4 linked regions of the Homo sapiens genome follow. The protein of the gene in region 2 interacts with the protein of the main gene of each other region in a biochemical or structural test. Each region holds a gene or a part of one and is shown on either strand. Other genes may lie near its edges. The genes, in order: CTTN, MYLK, PAK1 and CALM1.

What was found.
Region 1: the proteins of MYLK (region 2) and CTTN form a complex in vitro, tested with the Homo sapiens proteins (one study listed by BioGRID).
Region 3: of the proteins of MYLK (region 2) and PAK1, one has a biochemical effect on the other in vitro, tested with the Homo sapiens proteins (one study listed by BioGRID).
Region 4: the proteins of MYLK (region 2) and CALM1 are reported together in a solved structure, tested with the Homo sapiens proteins (2 studies listed by BioGRID, with this or other methods).

What each region holds. Positions count from the first base shown.
Region 1 is NC_000011.10:70,414,965-70,419,453, forward strand, and holds part of CTTN (src substrate cortactin), read left to right. Parts: intron 1-698; coding exon 699-753; intron 754-2,048; coding exon 2,049-2,159; intron 2,160-4,489.
Region 2 is NC_000003.12:123,612,441-123,616,321, forward strand, and holds part of MYLK (myosin light chain kinase, smooth muscle), read right to left. Parts: intron 1,910-3,881; coding exon 1,665-1,909; 3' UTR 1-1,664. UniProt on the Homo sapiens protein: Calcium/calmodulin-dependent myosin light chain kinase implicated in smooth muscle contraction via phosphorylation of myosin light chains (MLC). Also regulates actin-myosin interaction through a non-kinase activity.
Region 3 is NC_000011.10:77,351,643-77,356,131, reverse strand, and holds part of PAK1 (serine/threonine-protein kinase PAK 1), read left to right. Parts: intron 1-289; coding exon 290-464; intron 465-2,532; coding exon 2,533-2,596; intron 2,597-4,489. UniProt on the Homo sapiens protein: Protein kinase involved in intracellular signaling pathways downstream of integrins and receptor-type kinases that plays an important role in cytoskeleton dynamics, in cell adhesion, migration, proliferation, apoptosis, mitosis, and in vesicle-mediated transport processes.
Region 4 is NC_000014.9:90,400,029-90,404,517, forward strand, and holds part of CALM1 (calmodulin-1), read left to right. Parts: intron 1-36; coding exon 37-67; intron 68-1,230; coding exon 1,231-1,374; intron 1,375-3,833; coding exon 3,834-3,940; intron 3,941-4,350; coding exon 4,351-4,486; intron 4,487-4,489. UniProt on the Homo sapiens protein: Calmodulin acts as part of a calcium signal transduction pathway by mediating the control of a large number of enzymes, ion channels, aquaporins and other proteins through calcium-binding. Calcium-binding is required for the activation of calmodulin.

The sequences.
Region 1 (4,489 bases), on a different chromosome or scaffold from region 2:
CTGTGACAGAGTGACATCAGAGCCTATACCGGGGGGGCAGGATGCGCTCGTGTCCAGGACCCAGGCTTTGCGTCCAGGTGTTGTTGCAGTCATCCTAGGCCCGAGCCTCTTTGATTCTCTTCGGCTCGGGTCTGTTGGCTCTTTTGTTTAATAGAGGAGCGATCAGGAGCCTGGAGGGAGCAGGGAGCTGATGCTGGTCGCAGATTGTGGCTTTGTGACATATTAGCCACGGTTCTGAATTTATGTGTCTGTGAAAGGAGGATGATCATACCTATCTCACGGGTGTTTGCTCAGATGCCCATCGCAGTGCCTGGCTGGTGGGAGTGCACCCCTGGTGGCCACTGCTATTCTCATTACTAATACTAATGTTCTCAGCATGACTTATTTGAGAAGCGAGTTTTTGTGAAGCCCGTGGAATGAATCAGCTGAGCATTCCCTGCTGCCGCATGCTGGGGAGGGCAGGTCACCAGGGATATGGCTTGGCCTGCGCCGCCCACTGGGCCTTGCAGTGGGCCTGTCCGTTTAGGATGCCAGAGCTCTTGCGTCACTGCCACCTGCACCTGGCTTAGGAACCCAGAGGTCACAGCATCATGTGTTTCATATTTTTTTAAATGTCATGTCATGAATTCAGAGAGATTGTTTCAGGGACATTGGAAAGTATTTCTCCCCACTTTTTCATGTGTTTTTGGTCGTCACAGTCTGCTGTAGGCTTTGAATACCAGGGGAAGACTGAGAAGCATGCCTCCCAGAAAGGTAAGACGCGAAAGGTGCAGAAAGAGCCCGCTCCGGGGGCCCCGATGGGGAGAGTCACAGCCACCTGAAGCCGTTTCCCCGCGCTCCGGGGGCCCTGATGGGGAGAGTCACAGCCACCTGAAGCCGTTTCCTGAGCGGTGGCTGTTGCCACAAGGAGGACTCTGCCCTCCTCTTCATGTTTCTGGATCATCTGGATACCACATGATGGATGTATTCCCCGTTACACATCCCCCTCGGAGCCCTGGCATCTGCTGTCATTGTGGGGCTTCTCCCCCTTGTAGCGGAAGCCGCCTTCCCTTCATCTGGGCAGCGCTCCTCCTGGAAAAGAGAGCTCACAGATTGATCGGCAGAAAGCTAACTTCCCCCCAAGGCTAGAAACCAGAGTTGTTAAATTCTTGTTTTCCTTATACACATACGGTCTTAACTGCTGGTGATTAATCTTGATTACATCATGCAGTCTCTTTTTTGAAAGACCAAAGCATATCGCCACCTTAAAGTTCTCAGTTTATTTTTTGCAAGCTTATTTAGTTCTTCCTCCTTTGTGTCATTGCATCATCCGCGGAACAAGCTCTCAGTCCTTACGCAGTCTCGGTGCAGTCTAGGTGGAGGTAGCTGTGGTGTGGGCAGGCGGAGGATCAGGGTCTTGTCTCCCATGTTCAGCTGCATGGCTTTCTTCATATGAGGCTTTCTCTTTCCATTTTTTTCATTTTGTTTTGTTTGTTTGTTTGTTTTGAGACAGAGTCTCGCTCTGTTGCCCAGGCTGGAGTGCAGTGGCACGATCTCGGCTCACTGCAACCTGCGCCTCCTGGGTTCAAACGATTCTCCTGCCTCAGCCTCCCAAGTAGCTGGGATTACAGGTGTGTGCCACTACCCCTGGCTAGTTTTTCTATTTTTTAGTAAAGATGGGGTTTTGCCACGTTGGCCAGGCTGGTCTCAAACTCCTGGCCTCAAGTGATCCGCCCACCTCAGCCTCCAAAGTGCTGGTTCTTTGTATGAAGCTTTCCAGCTTTTACCTGAGCAGTTGATTTTCAAAGTGGGCATGCAGCGTCATTTCTGACTACACAAAGGAACTGCCCTGTAACAGCTGACAGGGCCCAGAACCCCCCCATGCACCTGTTGTGAAACAGGGTCCAGCGTCACCTGTATGGAGCAGTGGGTGGCTTGTTGTACATTTTAAAATGTGCGCTTGATGTGTTTGTGAGTTGTAACCCCTACACACTTTTGCTTAGTTTAACAAAAGGAACAGTGTAGTTCGTCCTCAGGCCCCCGTGCTAATTGCTGCCCTGTCTCTCCAGACTACTCCAGTGGTTTTGGCGGCAAGTATGGCGTGCAGGCCGACCGAGTAGACAAGAGCGCGGTGGGCTTCGACTACCAGGGCAAGACGGAGAAGCACGAGTCACAGAGAGGTGGGGCGGACCCCACGGTCTGTAATCACGCGTTTGCTCCAGAAACACCCACGAGGGCATTTTCTCTCTGCACACGTGATTGTTGTAGATTTTTTAACTGAAAATGTTTGGTGTTCTTTTCGTACCAGTGTATGTGGGCTTTTCCTAATTCGAATGGCTGCACAGTTCCCCATCGTATGAGGATTCCATAGTCCATGTAACCATTCCTTTTTTGAATGTGGAATTTAGGTTATTTATTTATTTATTTATTTATTTTTGGTAGAGATGAGGTCTTGCCGTGTTGCCCGGACTGGTCTTGATCTCCGTGGTCTCAAGCAATCCTCCCCCACCTTGGTTTCCTTAAGTGCTGGGATTACAGGTGTGACCTGTAAATTTTTTTTTTTTTTCTTTTAGACGGAGTCTCGCTCCGTTGCCCAGGCTGGAGTGTAGTGGCGTGATCTCTGCTCACTGCAACCTCCACCTCCCTGGTTCAAGCAATTCTCGTGCTTCAGCCTCCCGGCTAGCCGGGATTACAAGCACACGCCACCACGCCCAGCTAATTTTTGTATTTTTAGTAGAGACGGAGTTCTGCCATGTTGCCCAGGCTGGTCTTGAATTCCTGACCTCAGGTGATCGCCCTGCCTTGGCCTCCCAAAGTGCTGGGATTACAGGTGTGAGCCACTGCGCCCAGCTGAAACTTGACTGCAGGGAACATTCTTGTACCTGTGTTTTGTTCACAAGTGATTATTCAAAAGAATCAACTCCTAGACATGGAATTGCTGGGTCGAAGGCTATTGAATGTAAAATTTCCATAGATACTGCCAAGTTGTCCTTGGAGGCTGTGCTGAGTTCTTCCTTCCCCACTGCATAGCCTGTACACCATCACTCAGAGCGTTTCCCAGGGCTGCAGAGGCTGTGGCCTGCCTGTTTCCCTGTGCCTCTTGTTTGGCCTGCACATTTAAATTTTTAAAAATATTTGCCAACATTTGAAAAGTGAGAGCTTGACTATTTAAAAACTCAAAAAAAAAAAAAATTACCCCAAAGCAAGAAACACCACTGGAAGATCCGACCATGCTGGCTTGGCATTTCCCTGAGGAAAGTGCCGGTGGCCTGGAGGGCAGCTTGGCTTGTAGTTTGTCGCGGCCTGGCCTGGCCTTGCCTTCCTGCCGGTCAGGCCTTGCCTGCCGCACAGAGCTGCTTGCCTCTGCTCTCTGCCTCTTTCCTGGGAACAGTCCATTCCTCCTCTTCCCGACACCACACAGTTGTGAGCAGCGCATGCTCCGCGAAGCTGCATGAGTGTGTGACTCCAGGGAGCCAGGGAGCACAGGCCGAGCACCTGGGCAGACGCAAGGCTCCTTGGATGCTTCAGGCCTTCTCTCCCAGGCCTTGATCCTCTGCCTTGTGCTGTTAGTGGGTCCATGAGAGAGTCATGTTTTGGTGTCACAGTGACATGCTAAATGGCTTCATTCTGAGTAGAACTGAAGTTTCTGGAGGATGCTGTGTGTGTCCTATTTCCTGGCATCCCCCTGCGTGCTTCAGTTTGTGAAGAGTGGCCTTTGAAAGCCTTGCCCTTCTGCTGCCTCCTGAGCTTAGAGCCTTATCATAAACTCTCATCTCCTGCTAGCTTCTGGATGCAATGGATGATGTTACAGGAATTCATCTGCTGTACTTTATTTCTTTTTTTTTTTTTTTTGAGACGGAGTCTCTCTCTCTCGCCAGGCTGGAGTGCAGTGGTGCGATCTCAGCTCAGTGCAACCTCCTCCTTCCGGGTTCAAACAATTCTCCTGCCTCAGTCTCCTGAGTAGCCGGGATTACAGGCATGCACCACCAAGCCCAGCTAATTTTTGTATTTTTAGTAGAGGCGGGGTTTCACCATGTTGCCCAGGATGGTCTTGATCTCTTGACCTCATGATCCGCCCACCTTGGCCTCCCAAAGTGCTGGGATTACAGGTGTGAGCCACTGTGTCCAGCCTCTGCTGTACTTTAAAAAAAAAAACTTTTTTTCTTAATTCTTTTTTTTTTTTTGAGATGGAGTTTCACTCTTGTTGCTCAGGCTGGAGTGCAGTGGCGCAATCTCGGCTCACTGCAACCTTCACCTCCTGGGTTCCAGTGATTCTTCTGCCTCAGCCTCCCGAGTAGCTGGGATTACAGGTGTGGGCCACCACGCCCAGCTAATTTTGTATTTTTAGTAGAGATGGGGTTTCATAATGTTGGTCAGGCTGGACTTAAACCCCTGACCTCAGGTGATCCACCCACCTCGACCTCCCAAAGTGCTGTGATTACAGGCGTGAGCCCCCTCCCCCAGCCTGTTTTTTGAATTTTTAAAATATTAGCTAATGATTTAACTTAGA
Region 2 (3,881 bases):
CATATACGCCACACATGCACACACACAACATACACGCACACAAAGGTTATATTCTGAACACAAAAGTGATAGAAAAAAGCTTTGAATGCGCTAAATCAAATAAAAACCCTTTATTATAATAAACTGTGGCAATACTGTGGCTATCATGAAAAATATTGTAACTATTTTAAAAGCAAAAGGAAAAATACTGGCAGTTTGAAACTAGCAGCAAAAAGCAGATAAAAATAGAATGGAAGATAACATAAGACTAATATCAAAATTCTAATGTTGATACTGTGTAGGATTGCACTGAAGTAATTTTAAATTGGTTCTTAAGGAACTCTTAAAAAGTCCCTTAAAAATATTAAATTGTTGCACCTTACAAACAGTGGAAAAGAAAAAAAAAGTATTTGGAATGTTACACACACACACAGAGGAAATGTATTAGGTCTATCATCAATTATGGTCTTTGTTTATGACCTTCAAAAAGCTTTATAAAGAAAAAATTTAAGTGCCAATGTAGTGAAAGAAAGTTAAAAATTCCTAAAGACGCAAGTCTGAGTGCATTTACCAGGTCTAAGAATATATTTAAAGGTTGGGGGCAAGGCATGATTGATGCACATTTAAGAAGAAAAATATGGAACCCATAAGGTAGGTCAAGTTCTTTGGAGAGTGTTGAGAATGAAGATGTATTAAACTCTGGCTATCTTGGAGGAGATTCCAAAGTACATGGAGTTCTCCAGCTCTTTATCAGTTGAAATCTGTTTCATCGTGGCCAATAGATAATTAAGACTAACTTTTCAGCAAACTGATTTCTCCTATATTCAAACACAAAAATCTTTACCACACGTTCAGAGCTGATATTCTATAACAGCACAAATAAGAATCCTGGTTTACAAAGGAAACCACATTAGCAAGGATTTTTTTTTTCCCATGGGTTCTTAACCAAATGTCTGAAGCTGCTAGACATCTGCAAAGAGGGGATAAGTTTAGATTTCCTACTGATTTTGGAAGAAAAATATTTTCCTAAGGAAGCCAGAGTCATCCATGAGCAGGGACCTGTCTTCAGAATCGAAGAAGCATAATGTCCTTAATGCTTACACTCATGACAAGTTGAGAGTCAGCAAAACTGGCAGGTGGAAGGGGAAAGAGAAATGGAGAGTTTGAACATCTGCAGTGTACTTTGGAATAAAGTGGCTCAACTGCTTTCAGAAATGAATTGCTGGAGTACTGGGAGAAAACCCAGTTCTCTAGAGTCAGGGGGTGGGGAGAGAGAGGCCTCCCATCCCCAGGAACCCTCTGGGCTGAGCTGTGGCCCAGAACTCTTGTTTTGGCCTTATTTTTCATGAGCGCATTCAAGTGGAGAATTTATGACTTTGCCCAGATAAATATTTGGTTTGGTTACTTTCTCTCTAAAATCAATTGGTCAGTCAAGTTACTGGTGATTTCCCTAAATGAAATCTAGCTGCACTAGTATCTTAAGGTGCCAACTAACATAGATTAATGCCCATCAATAACGCTGCTAGGTATCAACTGCTGTTTCTGAAGAATCAACCCACAAATGACCTAACCGATAATCTATCACACTAGGTGCTTTTACTATCTTGAGTTTTTTTTTTTTTTTTGAGTTTTAGAGAAATAGTCCTTTTAATATGACTTAGAAACTGCTTTTCTCTGGCTTTGTTTCACTCTTCTTCCTCTTCCCCTTCCCCTTCACCTTCCTCCATCGTTTCCACAATGAGCTCTGCTGTGCAGGTGGCTTCTCCAAGACTGTTGACAGCCTTGCAGGTGTACTTGGCATCGTCATCCCCGCAAACATCACTAATAATTAAAGAGCAGTTCCCGTCCTCATCGTAGTCTATCTGGAAGTGGCGGGACTCCCTGATTGACTGGTCATCTTTGAACCAGACAACCTCGGGGTCTGGGTATCCTGCATCACAGGGAGAGAACACAAGTTGCAGGAACTGTTATTCAAAATTTCTTATCAACTCATGCAAGCAACTTGTAAGCTACCACTATTGATTAAGGTGGTTAAGGAGAAAATTTTGATGTTGGCCTTTATCGACTGTTTTGATATCTACATTAGAATATGGACATGTCTTGTAAATACCAATATCTGAAACCCCAAATAGAATATTTTAAAGTTGTTCCATTTCCCACACATGTTGGACTAGCACCACATCCCACCTATTAAAAAACTTATTTAATAGTTTTTTTATTTTTTTAAAGTGATGAGTCTCACTCTGTTGCCTAGGCTGGAGTGTAGTGGCATGATCGTAGCTTACTGTTGCTCAAATTCCTGGGCTCAAACGATCCTCCCTTCTCAGCCTCCTGAGTAGTGAGACTATAGGCATGAGCGACCGTGCTCAGTTAAACATCACACCTTTCACTTTTTGGGGGGTAGGGGGGCAGGGTCTCATTCTATCACCTAGGCTGGAGTGCAGTGGCATGAACATGGCTCACTGCAGCCTCAACTTCCTGGGCTCAAGTGATCCTCCTCCCTCAGCCTCCCAAGTAGCTGGAGCTATAGGTACATGCCACCATGCCTGGCTAATTTTTTAAAAAGTTTTTTTTTTGTAAAGACAGGGTCTCCCTATGTTGCCCAGGCTGGTCTCAAACTCCTGGGCTCAAGTGATCCTCTGACCTTGACCTCCCAAAGTGCTGGGATTACAGGTGTGAGCCACCACACCCACCCATCTTTAAACAGACATAGAGTACTACCTGAGGCTAGGCATGGTGGCTCATACCTGTAATCCCAGCACTTTGGGAGGCCAAGGTGGGCAGGAGTTCAAGACCAGCTTGGCCAACATGGCAAAAAAATAAAAATTAAAAATAGAGTACTACCTGAAATACTGCTCCAATTCCAACTCTACACCTAGATCTGAATACCTTCTTAGATTGAAAATACAATTTTCTTTTTCCTTTTTTTTTTGAGACAGAGTCTCACTCTGTCGCCCAGGCTGGAGTGCAGTAGCGTGATCTTGGCTCACTGTAACCTCCGCCTCCTTGGTTCAAGTGATTCTTGTGCCTCAGCCTTCTGAGTAGCTGGGATTACAGGTGCACGCCACGACACCCGGCTAATTTTTGTATTTTTAGTAGAGACAGGGTTTCAGCATGTTGACCAGGCTGGTCTGTATCTCCTGACCTCAGGTAATCTGCCTGCCTTGGCCTCCCAAAGTGCTGGGATTACAGGTGTGAGCTACCTGTGCTCGGCCGAAAATACAATTTTCTATCTTTTTTTTTTTTTGAGACAGAGTCTCACTATGTTGCCTAGGCAGGAGTGCAGCAGCATGATCTCGGGTCACTGCAACTTCCAATGTCCAGGCTCAAGTGATCCTTCCACCTCAGCCTACTGCATAGCTCAGACTACAGGTACACACCACCACACCCAGCTAATTTTCGTATTTTTTGTAGAGATAGGGTTTCACCATGTTGCCCAGGCTGGTCTTGATCTCCTGGACTCAAGTGATCTGCCTGCCTTGGCCTTCCAAAGTGTTGGGATTACAGGCGTGAGCCACTATGCCCAGCCTAAATTTTCAATTTTGTATAATAGTTTAAGTGAAATAATTTAAATGAAAAATAAGAGTCAAAACAAAATGGGAACAAGGGATCTTTTTGGAGTGATGAAAATGTTCTAAAATTGGATTGTGGTATAAATTCATTAAAAATAATTGAATTGTGCATTTAAAATAGGTGAATTTTATAGTATATAAATTATAACTGAATAAAGCTAATAACAGCTATATAAAACATAATTTAAAAGAGCTGATAATATTGCTAAGAAGAAGAAAGCAATATTTGTCTTAGTCTGATCCAAAGCAGGTAATTTGCCTATGGACAATTGGAAATGGACCTCACCAATGAGCCTTTATGCATTAGTCATATCTCTGCAAAGTTCAGCA
Region 3 (4,489 bases), on a different chromosome or scaffold from region 2:
ATCTAATAGAATTGTCTTTAACTAATTTCTTTTGATAGTTGTCTAGCCTCTATTGAATATCTTTAGTGCTGAGACTCTCACTTCTTTTGTTTACAGTGAGAGTAAGGAAGGCCATTTTACCCAGAATGGGTGGGCCTGGGCACAGAGGAGGAGTAATATAGATTTTGACATAAGAGAAAGGATGAGTTTATTGGGGTTTGCTCTGTGGATGTTCTAACCTCACATCTAGGAGAGGTTCCCCTATGCTAACAAAGGCTGGTCTTGCCAAAATTTTGCACTAATAATGCAGGTATACACACGGTCTGTGATTGAACCACTTCCTGTCACTCCAACTCGGGACGTGGCTACATCTCCCATTTCACCTACTGAAAATAACACCACTCCACCAGATGCTTTGACCCGGAATACTGAGAAGCAGAAGAAGAAGCCTAAAATGTCTGATGAGGAGATCTTGGAGAAATTACGTAAGGAATTTGTAGCTTTCTGAACCTTTCTTCGTTTTATGACTGGTCAAGCACAGAGATTTGCTGGTCGTAGGCTTGGTCCATGCAGCTGGCTGGCCATGCTTGGTACCTTAGGCACAGACTGCTTCTCCTCACCCTGCCCCTGAACCTCCCTTCCCTGTCTCACAGCCCTGGTTGGATACTATGTTAGGATGGAGATGTGGTGAGAGTGTGGATAGCTTACTTTGAGGGCAGGGCATCCCTCACCCCTAGGCATGTATTATAGCGAAGACAAATAGTTTTTCTCTAATGAATAGCCTAGAATGCCATGTTGAGAAAGACTGAGGACCTAGTGGAAAAGGGCACTGTGATCAATTATTGATGTTTTGCCATTGACCTAGGAGAAGACGCATCTGCCATCTTGGTTGTAGGAAAAGAGGGAAGGGAAGTTAACATTTTATGAACCTATAGTATGTATCAAATGACAAGCAAAATATTTTCTTGATTTTTTTTAAATTTAATTCTCTTATTAACCCTGTGAAGAAAAGCATTATGATCCTAATTTTTGCAATGAAGATATCTGAGGCTCAGGGAGGCTAAATATCCTGCCCAAAATCACGCAGCTAAAAAGTGACATGGCTGAGGTTAGAACACAGTTTTTGTTCCTGTAAGTAGAGCATACTGCCTCTTGCTGTCAAGTGGAAACTTCCATTTTACTTTCTTTAGCTGCCAGAAATGGGGGTATGTTAGGGTAGCTTATTTCTGTGTTTCAGTAAACTGCAGAAGAATTCATGTTAGAAGGAAGAACTAGGTTGATCTGTGGGCTTGGAAGAATCATTTGACAAGGGCTTTAATTTATTCACTGTATCTACTTACTTCCAAAAAGGATTTGATGTGACCGATTTGGCGACGTCTGCAAACTGGCATTGCTTTGTGGTTCTCTAGTTCTTCCTGATTAATTCCTATATGACTTTAAAACAAATTTTCACTGTTTTAAAAATTGCCCTTTTCTGGATCCCTCATAAAATGACAAAGTAAGAAAAGCCACTTACCTAGTCATCTGTTTACTCCTGTATGTAGTCTTGTTCTCTAAACCAGAGTTTTTTGTTTTGTTTTGTTTTAACAATAACACTTAGAATTATGACTTAGAATTAAGACTTGGCCTGGGAGTTAGGACACTTGAGTTGAAGCTTCTGCTCAGCCACTGACTTGTGTCTTAGGCAATTTTCTACTGTTCTCTAAACCTCATTTTTCTCATTTTTAAAATAGGGATGTTAATACTTGTCTCATTTGCAAATCAAATGAGGTAATATATGTGAAAAGTACCAATTCCTAGTAATTGGGTATTAATGGAGAGCACATTGGACCGGGAGACTAAAAATGAAACTCCTAATCTTAGCTCTGACACCAATTTGCTGTGTGACCTTGGGGGGGAAGTATCTTCTTCCCTTCTGTGGGCCTCAATTTCTCCATCTCTAAAATACAAGTTATAAAACCCAGTGGAAAACCTCTATGTCGTTGCACTTGAAATATTCTTTGTTGTAAACCTCTTCTCTACTTTATCTCTCTGGCTTTTACTTAAAGTGGAAATCAGTCCATATATCACCTTTCTGAAGTTTTTCCAGTCTTTTTTTTGTGTGTGTGTGCCTCTTTCTGTACCCCTTTGGCTTTTATCACAGCAATTATTATATTTTCATGGAACTTTATGCTTACTTATCTGTCTCCTCCATGAAATTGACCTTCTTGAGAGCAGGGACTGCCTTGACTGTGTCATATCTCTTCATTCCTAACACAACATATGGCTTGGTGCGTATTAAATGAGTAAATATTTACTGAATGGATTAATTAAAAAATGAATGACTTTTAGGAGTTTAGAAATGGAATAGCTTACTATGAATCAAAGCAGTCAAGGTGATGAAACTTTTGGTTGAGACTTATGGGGGAAAAGCTGAGGGCCTGTTTAGCATGCTTTTTGGCTATTGGAGGTAGTTCTTTAACCCTTGCCAGCTACAGGGGTTGGGGAAATGTGGAACCTTTTTTGTATCTTGATTTGGGAAAAAATGATTCATGGTCTCTGTTTCTTTCAAAGGAAGCATAGTGAGTGTGGGCGATCCTAAGAAGAAATATACACGGTTTGAGAAGATTGGACAAGGGTTAGTAGGGGCATTTTCTTTCCCTGGAGAAATGACTTTAAAGTGTGTGTGCCGGCATATATGATTTTGCTTTTTTTTTGCCTCTCATAAACCTTGTTCTTCTTTCTCCACTTTACCCCTCACCCATCTGGAGTTGTTATGTGAGACTGACTTGAGATTTGGCAGAATTATGCTTAATATGAGAGAGATGCCATTAGCTGACCATGTTGCTAAAAATACCCCTGCAGTGACAGTGAGAGAACGGTTTTTTTTCTTAGCACAAAACCAACTTCCCAAATTACAACTCTGCTTTTCCGGATGAACCCTGTTTGTCCTAGTGCTGAGATCCACCAGCACTAATATAAAATGGAAGACCCAAAACTATAAATCCTTCTACTACTGTGATAGGACCTGTTTTTCTAGGTAGATGCCAGAATTTATCCTTCTTGCATTCATCCTTCTCTGTATCTTATATGCTGCCCTCAGTGTAATGAATTCAGCAAGTCTTAACTGAGTTCCTATTGTGTGCAAGGCACTATGAATTCAGAGACAATCTCTGCTTCCAAGGACCTCAAGTCAACAGAAAAAGATAGGCAAACAATTGTATAGTCATATGTTGCCTAACAAAGGGGATATGTTCTGAGAAGTGCATCCTTAGGCAGTTTTGTCATGTGAGCGTCATAGAGTGAACACAAAACTAAATAGTATAGCCTACTACACACCTAGGCTATATGGTATAGCCTCTTGCTCCTAGGCTACAAGCCTGTACAGCATGTTACTGTACTGAATACTGTAGGCAATTATAACACAATGGTGGTTGTATATCTAAACATAGAAAAGATACGGTAAAAATACAGCATAAAAGATAAAAAAAAGGTATATTTATGTAGGGCACTTAACATGGATGGAGCTTGTAGGACTGGAAGTTGCTCTAGGTGAGTCAGTGAGTGGTGAGTGAATGTCGAGGCCTAGGACATTACTGTGTACGCTACTGTAGACTTTATAAACCCTGTACACTTAGACTGTACATTTATTAAAAAACAAAGTAATTGTGCTATGACGTTACAACTGCTACAGTGTTACTGGGTGATAGGAATTTTTCAGCTCCATCATAATCTTATGGGACCACCATCATATGCGGTCCATCGTTGACTGAAACGTCGTTATGTGACACATGACTGTCTTGTGTTTTTAAAGTGTTTGGCTGTTATTTTGAGTGAAAGAAGCTAGATATGAAAAAGCAGATACTGTCTCATTTGATTTATATGAAATTCAAGAACAGGCAAAAGTAATATATGATAATAGAAGTCAGAATAGTGGTTATTTCTGGGAGGAGGATGTAGAGTGGGAATAGGCATGAAGGAATCTTCGGGGGTAATGACTGTAGTGTCTTTTGAAAGTGGCCATTATTTTGAGTGAAAAAAGCCAGATATAAAAGAGCAGATACTATGTCATTCTATTTATATGAAATTCAAGAACAAGCAAAACTAATGTATGATAATAGAAGTCAGAACAGTGTAGTTATTTCTGGGAGGAGGATGTTGAGTAGGAATAGTCATGAGGGAATCTTTGGGGGTGATCTTGGTAGTGAACACATGGGTGTGTACATATATAAAAATCAAGTTGTACACTTAAGATTTGTGCAAATTAAGTTATACCTCTCTATAAAAAAAAAATGAGATTTCTAAAGACCCACCAAAAGAGATAAAATTAAAAAGAAACTGAAAAAGAAAAATGTCTGGCTCTCAGTGTTAGTGGAATGAAAGCATTGTTGCTAATGATGTCATTGAAATTTTCTTTTTTTTTTTAAATTATACACCCAAGAATTTCTGAAAATAAAAGATTGCATAATATAGGGAGGTTCTGTTTATACAGCATTCTACAGTTCACATCTGTTATTTGCATTTATTGTTT
Region 4 (4,489 bases), on a different chromosome or scaffold from region 2:
GTGGACTGAATGATAACCTTTTCTTTCTTCATATAGGCTGATCAGCTGACCGAAGAACAGATTGCTGGTAAGTTGACAACTCCAAGGAGTCCCCAGAAGGCCAGAACTAGGCACTGACTCAGTTTTGGTGACTCCTCTGTTCCTCCCCGCTACAGTCTGGGCAGTTTTCTAAGAATTTATTTAAATAAGAACAGTAAGCAGAAACACTGAGGTCAGATGTTATTCTTGCCAGTACTTTATAGATGAGGTGAAAGGAAGTAAAACTAAGGATGCCCACATGTTAAACTCTGGAGAATTTGACCATGTTTCACAATGTGCAAAGTTTGCGTATGATTAATTGTACTGAGCCTGCTACTCAGCGGTTTAGTTTACAATTCTTATGCCATGGGTCTTTCAGTAATCTGCCACGAAAGCTTGTGCTCGCTATCCTAAAATAAATGGAAATGGGTGAATATGAGTGTTAGGACCACTGTAGTAATTGGGAAGAAAGTTACATTAGTTAAACTCTGTTGCCCAGGCTGGTCTCTAACTCCTGGGCTCAAGCAATCCTCCTGCCTCAGCCTCCTGAGTAGCTGGGACTACAGGCATGTGCCACCACGTCTGGCAGATTTTAGCTTTTTAATATTCCTGGAGGACTTGTTTTGAGACTGTTTCTCGTTAGGAAACCAGGAATGCTTCTGAAATATTCTAAAAGTCATGTGGAGAGAGTTTACCTGGGAATGTACATTTCTAGTAACCATTTTATTTGTTATGAAACAAGGGATTCTTATGGCTTTAGAAATGTAACAGGAAGGGATTTGAAGGGGGCACATGGACCAATCTTGTCAGATTGGATTTAGTCCCTTGAACCTGGGAGGCAGGGGTTGTAGTGAGCTGAGATTGCACCACTGCACTCCAATCTCGGTGACAGAGCGAGACTCCATTGTTTAAAAAAAAAAAAAAAGATTGGATTTAGGACTAATTTAAGCATGTTCCAGCTTAGCCGCCTTGAAACCTTTGGGAATATTGTGGTGTGTGGCACTGTTTATTGGGAGCAGTGTTTGCTTTATGGGCTGCTGTATGAAGGCCAGTCCAACAGGACTATTGTGGTCATTATTTCAGTAGATAAAGACCAGACTTCTGATACGTTGCACAACTTGAATGGCTGGCTTTGGCAAGCCCCCGGCAAGTGTGTATTGTGACTGGGTTGGATAAAGACATTGATTCTAACGGGTCAACTTTTGTTTTCAGAATTCAAGGAAGCCTTCTCCCTATTTGATAAAGATGGCGATGGCACCATCACAACAAAGGAACTTGGAACTGTCATGAGGTCACTGGGTCAGAACCCAACAGAAGCTGAATTGCAGGATATGATCAATGAAGTGGATGCTGATGGTAAGAGCTTTAAAACCATGAATGAGGGCCATTGTTGTGTAATTCAAGTTCAGACATGTTACAGGATTGTCTTTCAGGTCCCCAGAGCAAAGCAAATGTGCAAAGATCCTTTCTGTGGTTGCCCCAGGGCCATTGACAATTAAAATAGAAGATGATGGGCCTTGCGTCCATCCTGCTTAGTGTCTAGAATGTTTTCTGCATGGGATCACTATTGTTTTCTTCCTGCTTGGTGCGACCTAGAGCTCAAATCTATTTTTTTTTTTTTTTTTGGAGACGGAGTCTCGCCCTGTCGCCCAGGCTGGAGTGGCACTGGCGCGATCTCGGCTCACTGCAACCTCTGCCTCTTGGGTTCCAGCGATTCTCCTGCGTCAGCCTTCTGAGTAGCTGGAATTACAGGCGTGTGTCGCCACGCCCAGTTAGTGTTTTGTATCTTTAGTAGAGATGGGGTTTCACCATGTTGGCCAGGCTGGTCTCAAACTCCTGACCTCGTGATCCGCCCTCCCCGGCCTCCCAAAGTGCTGGGATTACAGGCGTGAACCACTGCTCCTGGCCGAGCTCAAAGCTTTTATCAACTGGCCCATGAGTCTGCACTGAGTCTTGAGGGGGGAGGTGAAATTAAATAGCCATAGAAAGTGCTTTTTAACAAACTTACTGTGTTTAAAGAGGAGGAGGAACCCCCAGATGAAGTAGGTGACGAGCACTCTTAGAAGTTACCATAAAAGTGAGTACAGTGTGAGCTGTAGATGTGTTTGCTGCAGAGGAGCATGTGAGGTTTGGAGGCGGATGTGTGGTGACTCCAGGGGATAGATTTGCAGAACCTAACGGAAAGGGAAGCTGTAAGGTGCAGGGCCAGAGGGAACCAGCAGTAACCCTGATAGCGGTCTGTCATCTGTTCCTCTCGACTCTACAGCAGCGGACAACAGAACTTTGATTGCTGATTTCCATCAGTAAGCAGGCTTTGAAGCACACTTCCCCACCCCTAAAAAAAAACCACGTATTTTGGTAAATCCTATATATATTCTAATGTACTGTATGACAGTATAGAACATGATTTTTAAAAGATGAGTTGGGAGGAGAAAAGGATAAAAGAAAAAATAAAAGAAGCATTAAGAATAAACAATTCGGATCTAGATTTTACTTTCTAGATGATTGACTCGAGGGTGGTGTAGTAAAATCGCTTGTCTGGTCACAAACATTTGGCAGCAGAGCTTTTGATTAGGTTCTTTGACAAAGCCTTCAGCACGTTAGAGTGGTTTTCACTAATAGTGTTTTGGAAAGAAAAGGTTGTCCATAGTTCTCTAGTTTGCTAAGATGATCAGCTACCCAGGAACGTGGAGTAACTTCCTCTTGTTTGTGGGAGCCCCGGGAATCTGTGCCTGGGGAGGGGAGAAGTCTGTTAGGCTCTTGGATTGTGTGGAAGAAGGAGAAGTTGTGCCAGGCTACAGAATCCTGTGTTTGCACTGAGAAAACAGGATGGTACCTGACCTTCTCTGCATGGCTGTGAGATAGCTTAAAATAATTTCTTTTGTTTTTGATGAATATGAACAATATCTTAAAATTTTTGAGGCTAAAAAAGTCTTGAAGGGATCCCTGAGGTATTTTCTTTGAAAGGTACTGGTGAAAATGAGTAACTTAACCTAAGGGTTTTTCTTTCTAATTTTATTTCCATTTAGTTCAATGACACTGTTAGTCTGGAGTGCTTGTCTTTGGGGGTATTCATCTCTTAGTTTTAAAGAGGAGTTGTTTGGAGTACTGGCCGTAGAACAGATTGTTCTGACAGTTCCCTAAGTGTTACTAGTCTGAGCTGTGAGAATGCTCCTGAGCTTTTCCCTTAATGGGAAATAAAGATACTGAGTTGGAAGAAAACAGGTGGCTAACCATCATAGCGTGGCCAAGAAATGATCCTGGAGAAGACTTGGTAAGACTTCATGGCCCATGCATGGCATAACAGAATCAATGTTCCTCTCTCATAATCTTTTCTCCTCTGAAACACTTTATACACTTAACCTGCAGCTCAGTTCTAGGCCTTTTTTGTGTTACTGCTGTCACTAACCAAGGCAGAGTGAGACCTGAGTGATTTCCCTAACTCAGGGATGGCAGTCGGGGGCGCTTTCTTCCCTCGGAGTGGAAAGATTCAGCCTGCGGAGTGGTGTATGCTATTTTTCTCTTGAACTGTACAGCCCTTCATGACCCTTCCATGGGCTTGAATCCAGATGTGCAGTTTCCTTTGTATAATTAAATACTATCCTGGGCACTGATGATGAGTTTGAAATTATGTGAAATTGCCCTGTGAAGTGTTTGAACGTTTTAGACCTGCAGATGATTGAACCTAGTAAGATAGTCTGCCCCTTTGTCCTAGTACATGTTTACCGTTCCGTACAGTGGTTCTGAAATGATTACTGCAGAGCAGCGTTAATGGAGTGCTTACTTTACATGAGCTTTTTGTTTTTTAATTCGAGGTAATGGCACCATTGACTTCCCCGAATTTTTGACTATGATGGCTAGAAAAATGAAAGATACAGATAGTGAAGAAGAAATCCGTGAGGCATTCCGAGTCTTTGACAAGGTAATCCAGCATCTACATAGCAGATGGTACTTAAGTATGGCTTCTTCCGCTTTCACTTCTAAAAGCTATAATAATGTTATAGACAGAAGACTTAAATCTAACTGCCTGAGCCTCTGATCTCACTTTCAAAAATCCTCCTTATGGTAACCGTATCAGGGGAGGGTAGGCATAATAAATAGGAATTTTGGACCATGTTTCTTGACTGTTACTTTGAATTGTTGTGAGCTTTTGCAAATCCTGTTTTCTGCATTAGCTGTTTGCATGTATTTAGTAGGTTAGAGGTGGGAACTAGAGATCAGAGAATTGTTTATGGCAGCAGAGTTAGCAGTAACTTGAGAGGGCATAGCTAAGTCAAAGACCTACTTCCCCACACTACATCATTAGCAATAACAATTGCTGAATGTTCACAGGATGGCAATGGTTATATCAGTGCAGCAGAACTACGTCACGTCATGACAAACTTAGGAGAAAAACTAACAGATGAAGAAGTAGATGAAATGATCAGAGAAGCAGATATTGATGGAGACGGACAAGTCAACTATGAAGGTA